Linked DNA regions of Homo sapiens: all the other regions are linked to region 1. The links come from fine-mapping of genetic effects on gene expression. A gene starts in region 1. Each other region holds a variant in brackets. All regions are shown on one strand. Distances are from middle to middle. Region 1 holds the start of CHMP4B (charged multivesicular body protein 4B). Region 2 overlaps ZNF341 (zinc finger protein 341). Region 3 overlaps ZNF341 (zinc finger protein 341).

Evidence for each region. PIP is the estimated chance that this variant, and not a neighbour inherited with it, causes the effect.
Region 2: its variant is fine-mapped to the expression of CHMP4B in whole blood (TOPMed, PIP 0.99).
Region 3: its variant is fine-mapped to the expression of CHMP4B in whole blood (TOPMed, PIP above 0.99). The same link has a PIP of 0.9 or more in blood mononuclear cells.

The regions. Positions count from the first base shown.
Region 1 is chr20:33,809,677-33,812,385 of GRCh38, forward strand. CHMP4B (charged multivesicular body protein 4B) reads left to right here and starts at 1,672. Exons shown (of 5, transcript NM_176812.5): 1 at 1,672-1,982. The coding sequence starts at 1,793. ZNF341-AS1 (ZNF341 antisense RNA 1) reads right to left here and starts at 1,423. Exons shown (of 4, transcript NR_110623.1): 1 at 1,364-1,423. RefSeq lists enhancers at 1,347-1,641, 1,381-1,460, 2,227-2,709 and a silencer at 1,521-1,800.
Region 2 is chr20:33,775,091-33,777,849 of GRCh38, forward strand. All of the region lies in intron 10 of ZNF341 (zinc finger protein 341), which reads left to right. Among named protein-coding and RNA genes, the nearest start is that of ZNF341-AS1, 35 kb to the right of the region's middle. The variant A/G (reference allele first, on the strand shown) is at 1,356.
Region 3 is chr20:33,784,618-33,787,376 of GRCh38, forward strand. The region is part of intron 12 of ZNF341 (zinc finger protein 341); the gene reads left to right. It overlaps ZNF341-AS1 (ZNF341 antisense RNA 1), which reads right to left. Exons shown (of 4, transcript NR_110623.1): 4 at 2,756-2,759. Among named protein-coding and RNA genes, the nearest start is that of ZNF341-AS1, 25 kb to the right of the region's middle. RefSeq lists a silencer at 1,060-1,109. The variant G/T (reference allele first, on the strand shown) is at 1,061.

The DNA of each region.
Region 1 (2,709 bases):
ATTACAGGCGTGAGCCACCGCGCCCGGCTCCAGTAATTTTTTTTTTCTTTTTGAGACAGAATTTTGCTCTTTTCGCCCAGGCTGGAGTGCAATAGCACGATTTCAGTTTACTGCAACCTCTGCCTCTCAGGTTCAAGTGATTCTCCTGCCTCAGCCTCCCAAGTAGCTGGGATTACAGGCGTGCGCCACCACGCCCAGCTAATTTTTTTATTTTTATTTTTTATTTTTAGTAGAGATGGGGTTTCACCACGTTGGCCAGGCTGGTCTCAAACTCCTGACCTCAGGTGATCCATCCGCCTAGGCCTGCCAGAGTGCTGAGATTACAGGTGTGAGCCACTGTGCCCAGCCCATCCAGTAATTTTTATATTTTGCAGTCTAAACCTATTCCTAAGTCAGTGCAACCATCCATTACTTTCAGTAAGTGGCTTGGTGCCACTGGTTTTAGGAGATTCCTTGCTGAAGCCTTTATACAGGCTCAATGCTTTCTGGGGGGTAACAGGTTGCTGTCAGTTGGAACACATTTTTTGTTCGTGTCTTCCACGTATAAGCTTAATGCTTTTTCTTTTCTTTTGTAAAAAAATTTATTTTCTTTTTTTCCCCTGTAAGTAAGGATACAACTTAATGCCTTTTCTATCTTAACTAAGCACTTATCACACACTGTGGCTGTAACTTTTGCAGTTTGAGGTACGACAGCAAAACCAGCATGAATTTCTTTTTCCTCTTTCACAATTCTAGGGCTAGAAGATTCGTTCTTACTGCAGACCTCAGTAAGCTCAGCATACGATTTTTTTTCTTAAGCTCAGAACTTCCACATTTACATTTAAAGGAAGCACTTTACAGCTTCATTTTGGCATATCCAAACTGCCAGCATTACTACTCTTGCACTTTGGGGCCATTATATAGTAAAATGAGGGTTACTCGAACCAAAGCACTGCAACACCGTGGCAGTCCATCTGATAACTCCTAAGCTGGTAAGTAACTAACAGATGGTAGAGGTATGTTGGACAAAGGGATGATTCACATTGCAGGTAGGATGGAACAGGATAGCACGAGATTTCATTAGGCCAATGGAAATTAAAAACTTATGAACTGTTTATTTCTGGAATTTTCTATTTAATACTGTCAGACCTTAGCTGGCCAAGTGAAACTACTCAAAGTAAAATCTCAGATAAGGGGGACACTACCGTACTTAACTGGAGAAGATACTGCTTTGCTTCTGTGACCACAGAATTGACAGGTTGAAATTGGAAACAACTGTTGCCTTCACGCTTTTAAGACAACTTCACATGAATATACATGTGAAGTTCAAGCATGGCAGTATCCCATACTAGCAATAAATTTTTGAGCAGTGTTGCACACTTACTGTCATTTCTCTTACTGTTCTGCCACTCCTACAGAGCGCAGGCCAAGGAGACTACATTTCCCAGAATGCCACACGCCCTTTGACCCCAGCTACAGCAAAAGACGCGCCGGGGAGCGCCTGAAGCCGGAAGACTATAGCTTCCCGGCATGCAGCACGCTTCCCCCTATTAGATTTGAGGCGCGGCCGGCGCGTTGCCCACTGGGAGTTGTAGTCAGTGGCGCGTTGCCCTGACGCCTGCCGGGCCGGGCGTGGGGGCCTGTGGGAGGTGGCGCGGCCGGGCCCAGCTGCGGGGCGGAGGCGGAGGCGGAGGAGAGGCCTGCGGCGGCAGGGAGCGGCGGGACTGGGAGCGGGCGCCGGAGCCGACCCGAGCCGAGCCGAGCCGAGCCGAGCCGGAGCGGGCGGCGAAGGCCGGCGCGGCGAGCAGCAACCATGTCGGTGTTCGGGAAGCTGTTCGGGGCTGGAGGGGGTAAGGCCGGCAAGGGCGGCCCGACCCCCCAGGAGGCCATCCAGCGGCTGCGGGACACGGAAGAGATGTTAAGCAAGAAACAGGAGTTCCTGGAGAAGAAAATCGAGCAGGAGCTGACGGCCGCCAAGAAGCACGGCACCAAAAACAAGCGCGGTGAGGCTGCCCGGCCCCTTCAGACTTGCCACGGGCTCCCCCCAGGCTCCCCGGGCCCGGACTTCACCTTCATCAGACTCGCCTCGGGGTCTGGTCTGACCCTGGAACTCTCCGGGTCAGACTTCTTGCCGGGTCTGGGACCCCCTCCCCGACTCCCTTCAATGTCTCCCCGATCCCTGGACTTTTCCATCGTCAGACTTATTCTGCCCTCTCCCCTCAGCCTCTCTCCACCCCGCCAGGTCCCTTCAGACCCCAATCTCACAGCACTTTCCTCCGCCCTCACTCTGTCCCTTTCTCTTCCGCCTTTTCCTTCTCGCCTCACCCACCTGCCTAGCTACTGCCCCTGCCTCCTCCTCGGCTCATTTCTGCCCCCATCCTAGCATTTCTGTGCTTCCTGGTCCTACCTGTGCCCTCTCCCGACTCCTCGGTGGAATCTGTGAGCTGCCCCTTGGCCTCTCCCCTGTCCTCTTGTCTCAGAATTCTCGTTGAAAAGCCTCCTTGCTGGAGAGAAAAGGGGACTGGGGGAGATGAGACCCCCGATTCCTGCTCTATTCACTTGCTGAGTGAACTTGAGCAAGTTGCTTTCCCTTTGAGGCCTCAGTTTCCCCATCCGTCAGCCAGAGTTCGGCCTCTGTTGAGGCCTAAGGTGTTTTCCAGCGTTGTGATTCACTTTTTGTTGCCTCGTAGCTTGACCTTACCAAAGTTTCCCGTGGCGCAAGCCTTCACC
Region 2 (2,759 bases), 35 kb before region 1:
TGAGGTTATTTTCAGTTTGTCATCAGTATAACAATTATACAGGGAACAACTTCGGAAGTACATCTTTGCTCTTTTCTAAGTTCCTAGAAGTGATTTTGCAGGTCAGAGTTGAAAGGGTTTTGTTTTTTTTTTTTTTTGAGATGGAGTCTCGCTCTGTTGCCCAGGCTGGAGTGCAATGGCAGGATCTCAGCTCACTACAACCTTCGCCTCCCAGGTTCAAGTGATTCTCCTGCCTCAGCCTTTCTAGTAGCTGCGACTACAAGGCACCTGCCACCATGCCCCGCTAATTTTTTGTATTTTTAGTAGAGACGGGGTTTCACCATGTTAGCCAGGATGGTCTCGATCCCTGACCTCGTGATCTACCCACCTCGGCCTCCCAAAGTGCTAGGATTACAGGTGTGAGCCACCGTGCCCGGCCTTTTTTTTTTTTTTTTAAAGATTAATTATCTACTTCAAAAACTATATGTATACAGTGCAATATTGTAAAACTATCACAGGACATAGAGTGAACAGGAATTCTCCATCCACTGTGACCCACTTCCCCATATCACGGGCAATCATGTTCGAAAAGTGTTCTTTGTAAACCTCTTATTTTGTCATAATTTTATTATTGATTGATTGATTTTTGAGACAGGATCTTGCTCAGTCACCCAGGCTGGAGTACAGTGGCACAATCATGGCTTGCTGTAGCCTTGACTTCCCTGGCTCAAACAATCCATCCCCCTCAGCCTCCTGAGTAGCTGGGACTACAGGTGTGTGCCACCACTGCCAGCTAATTTTGGTATTTTTTGTAGAGACAGGGTCTTGCTATATTGCCCAGGCTGGCCTAGAACTCCAAGGCTCAAGCAATCCACCCTCCTCAGCCTCCCAAAGTACTAGGATTACAGGCATAAGCCACCATGCCTGGCCTTCAATATATGTGTTTTAAAGCTTTCCTTTGTTTCATGAATTTAACTTATGTATGTATTTTAATTTTAATATAATTAATTAATTAATTTTTTGTTTAGAGACAGGGTCTCACTCCATCACCAAGGCTGGAAAGCAGTGGCATGATCATGGCTCACTGCAGCCTTGACCCTTGACCTCCCCAGTCTCAGGTGATTCTCCCACCTCAGCCTCCTGGGTAGCTGGGACTACAAGCATGCACCACCATGCCCATCTGATTTTTTTTTTTAAACTTTTTGTAGAAACAGGGTTTCGCCATATTGCTCAGGCTTGTCTCAAATTCCTGGGCTCAAGTGATCCTCCTACCTTGGCCTCCCAAAGTGCTGGGATTACAGGCATGAGCCACTGCACCTGGCCTTTTTTTTTTTTTGAGACAGGATCTCACTCTGTCACCCAGGCTAGAGCACAGT[A/G]GCATGATCACAGCTCACTGCAGCCTTCGCCTCCGGGGCTCAAGCAATCCTCCAGCTCAGCCTCCTGAGTAGCTGGGACCACAGGTGTGTGCCACCAGGCCTGGCTAATTTTTTATTTTTTATAAAGATGGAATTTCACCATGTTGACCAGACTGGTCTGGAACTCCTGGGCTCAAGCGGTCCACCTGCCTTGTTCTCCCAAAGGTCTGGGATTATAGGCGTGAGCCACACACCTGGCCAATTTTTATTTTTTTAGAGACAGAGTCTCACTGTGTTGTCCAGTCTAGAGTGCATCAGCTATTCACAGGTGTGGTCGCCTTGCCTCAGCCTCCCCAGTAGCTAGGACTACAGGCAGGCGCCATCACTCCTAGGTAAATTTGTTTGTTTGTTTGTTTGTAGAGACAGGGTCTTACTGTGTTGCCCAGGCTGGTCTTGAACTCCTGGCCTCAAGTGATCCTCCTGCCTGGCCTTCCCAAAGTGCTGGGATTACAGGCGTAAGCCATCACACCTGGCCTGTATTTCCTAAAAACAAGGATAACCTCTTCCATAAGGGCAATATACTATAGTTACCAAAATCAGGAAGTTGGGCTCTGTGCGGTGGCTCATGCCTGTAATCCCAGCACTTTGGGAGGCTGAGGTAGACAGATTGCTTGAGCCCAGAAGTTTGAGACCAACCTGGACTACGTGGCAAAACCCCGTCTTTACCAAAAAAAAAAAAAAAAAAAAAAAGAGGTGGGTATGGTAGCATATGCCTGTGGTCTCAGCTGCTCAGGAGGCTGAGGCAGAAGAATTGCTTTAGCCCGGGAGGTACAGGTTGCAGTGAGCTGAGATCGCACCACTGCACTCCCGCCTGAAGGACAGAGTGAGACCCTATCTCAAAAAAAAAAAAAAAAAAAAAAAAAAATCAGGCCAGGTGCGGTGGCTCACACCTGTAATCCCAACACTTTGGGAGGCTGAGGTGGGCGGATCACCTGAAGTCAGGAGTTCGAGACCAGCCTGGCCAACATGGCGAAATGCCGTATCTACTAAATTATAAAAATTAGCTGGGTGTGGTGGCGGGCACCTGTATTCCCAGTTACTTGGGAGGCTGAGGCAGGAGAATCCCTTGAACCTGGGAGACGGAAGTTGCAGTGAGCCGAGATCGGGCCACTGCACTCCAGCCTGGGTGACAGAGCGAGACTCTTGTCTCAAAAAAAAAAAAAAAGAAGAAAAAGAAATCAGGAAGTTAATATCAGTACAATTCTATTATCTAATTACAGGCCTTACTCAGAATTTTCCAATTGTTCCAATAACATGCTTTAGAGAAAAAGAAAAAAAAGGTTTTTTTGAACCAGAATCACATGTTGAATTCAGTTGTCATGTCTCTCTCGTCTCTCTTGTGTCCTATAAGCTGGAACAGTTCCT
Region 3 (2,759 bases), 25 kb before region 1:
TTTTTTTTTTTCTTTGAGACAAAGTCTCGCTCTTGTTGCCCAGGCTGGAGTGCGGTGGCAGATCTTGGCTCACTGCAACCTCTGCCTCCCGGGTTCAAGTGATTCTCCTGCCTCAGCCTCCTGAGTAGCTGGGATTACAGGCTCCCACCACCATGTCCAGCTAGTTTTTTGTATTTTTAGTAGAAACAGGGTTTTGCCATGTTGGCCAGGCTGGTTTCGAACTCCTGACCTCAGGTGATCCTCCTGCCTCGGCCTCCCAAAGTGCTGGGATGACAGGCGTGAGGCACTGCACCCAGCCTGTGTGAGGGACTCTTGACTCTGCCCCCTGTGGTGGGGACACTGCTCTCACTGTAAGTTCCCACTCAAACCTGAACAAAACGCCATCTCCTTGGTTCCCCAGTTGAAACACACTGACATTTTCTTTTCTATTAATCTTTAGATTTTTTTATTAGTTAAATTTTTTAATTGCTTTTTAATTGAAAAGGATCTAAAGATTGAGAAAACTTGAGGGAAAATCCTTGACGGGACAAAAGCATATATAAAAAAATAAACTCCCTCTCACTTCAGATGGACAATCCAATGTTTTTCCTTTTTTTTCTTTCCTACGACCTATGGTAAAAAATACATTTCATATTGCAACCCAGGAAGCACACATAGGATGTATTGCAACAAAAGTTTTACAAAACAGTGTTTTCTATTTTGTCCTTTTCAATTTTAGTTTTTTTATTTTTTATTTTTATTTTGAGACAGGGTCTCACTCTGTCACCCAGGCTGGAGTGCAATGGTATGATCTCACTACAACCTCCGCCTCCCAGGTTCAAGCCATTCTCGTGCCTCAGCCTCCCGAGTAGCTGGGATTACAGGCGCCCACCACATGCCTGGCTAATTTCTGTATTTTCAGTAGAGACGGGGTTTCACCATGTTGGCCAAGATGGTCTCAAACTCCTGGCCTCAGGTTACCCACCCACCTTGGCCTCTCAAAGTGCTGGGATTACAGATGCAAGCCACCACACCCAGCCTATTTTTAATTCTTAAAATAACCACCAACAGGGTGTAACTT[G/T]TGGTTTGCAGTTTGCAAAATACTCCTAATTCTCTTCCCCAAAGGTAACTGTTAGCGGTCTAGTCTGCATTCTTCTAGTTTTATTTTACACATATATAAAACGCTTGCTTACGTTTGCAAAAATGAGCACATACTATAACTTATGTGCCTTTTTTTCCTTATCATATACCTTGGCGATGTTCCCCAAGGAATGTGTGCTTACAGTTCCCCTGGAGGCTAAATTCTGTGGGTCCCCCTCCCCCGGGCCCCCCCCAGAAGTTGTTACCAACAGCACCTTCTTTTTCACATCTGAGTAGTCTTCCTCAATGAATTTTTCATCTTGTATTTAGCCAGTTCTCTATGTATGAACCTTTTTTTTTTTTTTTTTTTTTTTTGAGACTGAATGGCACGATCTTGGTTCACTGCAACCTCTGCCGCCTGAGTTCAAGCAATTCTCCTGCCTTAGCCTTCCAAGTAGCTGGGATTACAGGTGTGCACCATCACGCCCAGCTAATTTTTGTATTTTTAGTAGATATGTGGTTTCACCATGTTGGCCAGGCTGGTCTCGAACTCCTGACCTCAAGTGATCCCCCCGCCCCAGCCTCCCAAAGTGCTGGGATTACAGGCATGAGCCATCACGCCCAGCCTATGTATGAACCGTTAAATTACATTTCAGCTATTAGTTTGTACACACAATGCTGTGTGGGTCCCTTGGCAAGCTTTTGGAAGTGTATCTGTAGTGTATATTCTTAGGAGTGGAAATGCTAGGTTAAAATGCATGTGTAATACTGAGTTTCAGTTTGGGATGATGAAAAAATTCTAGAGACAGATGATGGTGATGGTTGCATGATGGTGCAAATGTACTTATGCCACTGAACTATACACTTAAAAGAAGCTTAAGATGGTCAATTTTCTGTTATGTATATTTCTCCACAATAAAGAAGGGAAAAGAAGTAATGCATTGTAAGTTTGATATTACCAAATTGCTCTTTATGGCTTTTAAAAATTATTATTCAAAAGTAATACATGCTGCCAGGCGCGGTGGCTCATGCCTGTAATCTCAGCACTTTGGAAGGTGAAGGTGGGTGGAGCACCTAGGTCAAGAGTTTGAGACCAGCCTGGCCAACGTGATGAAACCCCGTCTCTACTAAAAATACAAAAATTAGCCGGGTGTGGTGGTACGCACCTGTGATCCCAGCTACTCAGGAGGCTGAGGCAGGAGAATTGCCTGAACCCAGGAGATGGAGGTTGCAGTGAGCCAAGATCAAACCACTGCACTCCAGCCTGGGCAACAGAGCAAGACTCTGTTTCAAAAAAAAAAAAAAAAATACAAAAAACGAAACAAAACAAAACAAAAAAAACCACACAAATAATACATGGTTATTATAAAAATGGAAACAATATAGGAGTACATAAAGTAAAATGTTAAATTTCCCCTTCAAGTTGTAGTTGCCACTGACACTTTGGTCTGTCCTTTCCCTACACCTCCCCATCTTTCTTCCTGCATCTTCAGTTTATTTACAGAGACACATGGCCAGGGCTTTTTTGGGGTGTGCAGGTTGTATTTTTTCTTTCTTTTTTTTTTGTTGGAGCTTACATATCCAGTAGGGATTATATTTTTTTCTAAGAAAGACGAGATTGTGTTAAGCTGTTCTACTGCTTTCTTTCCCCACTAGCAGTATGTCCAGGAGATCTTTCCAGATCAGGAAACACAGATTGA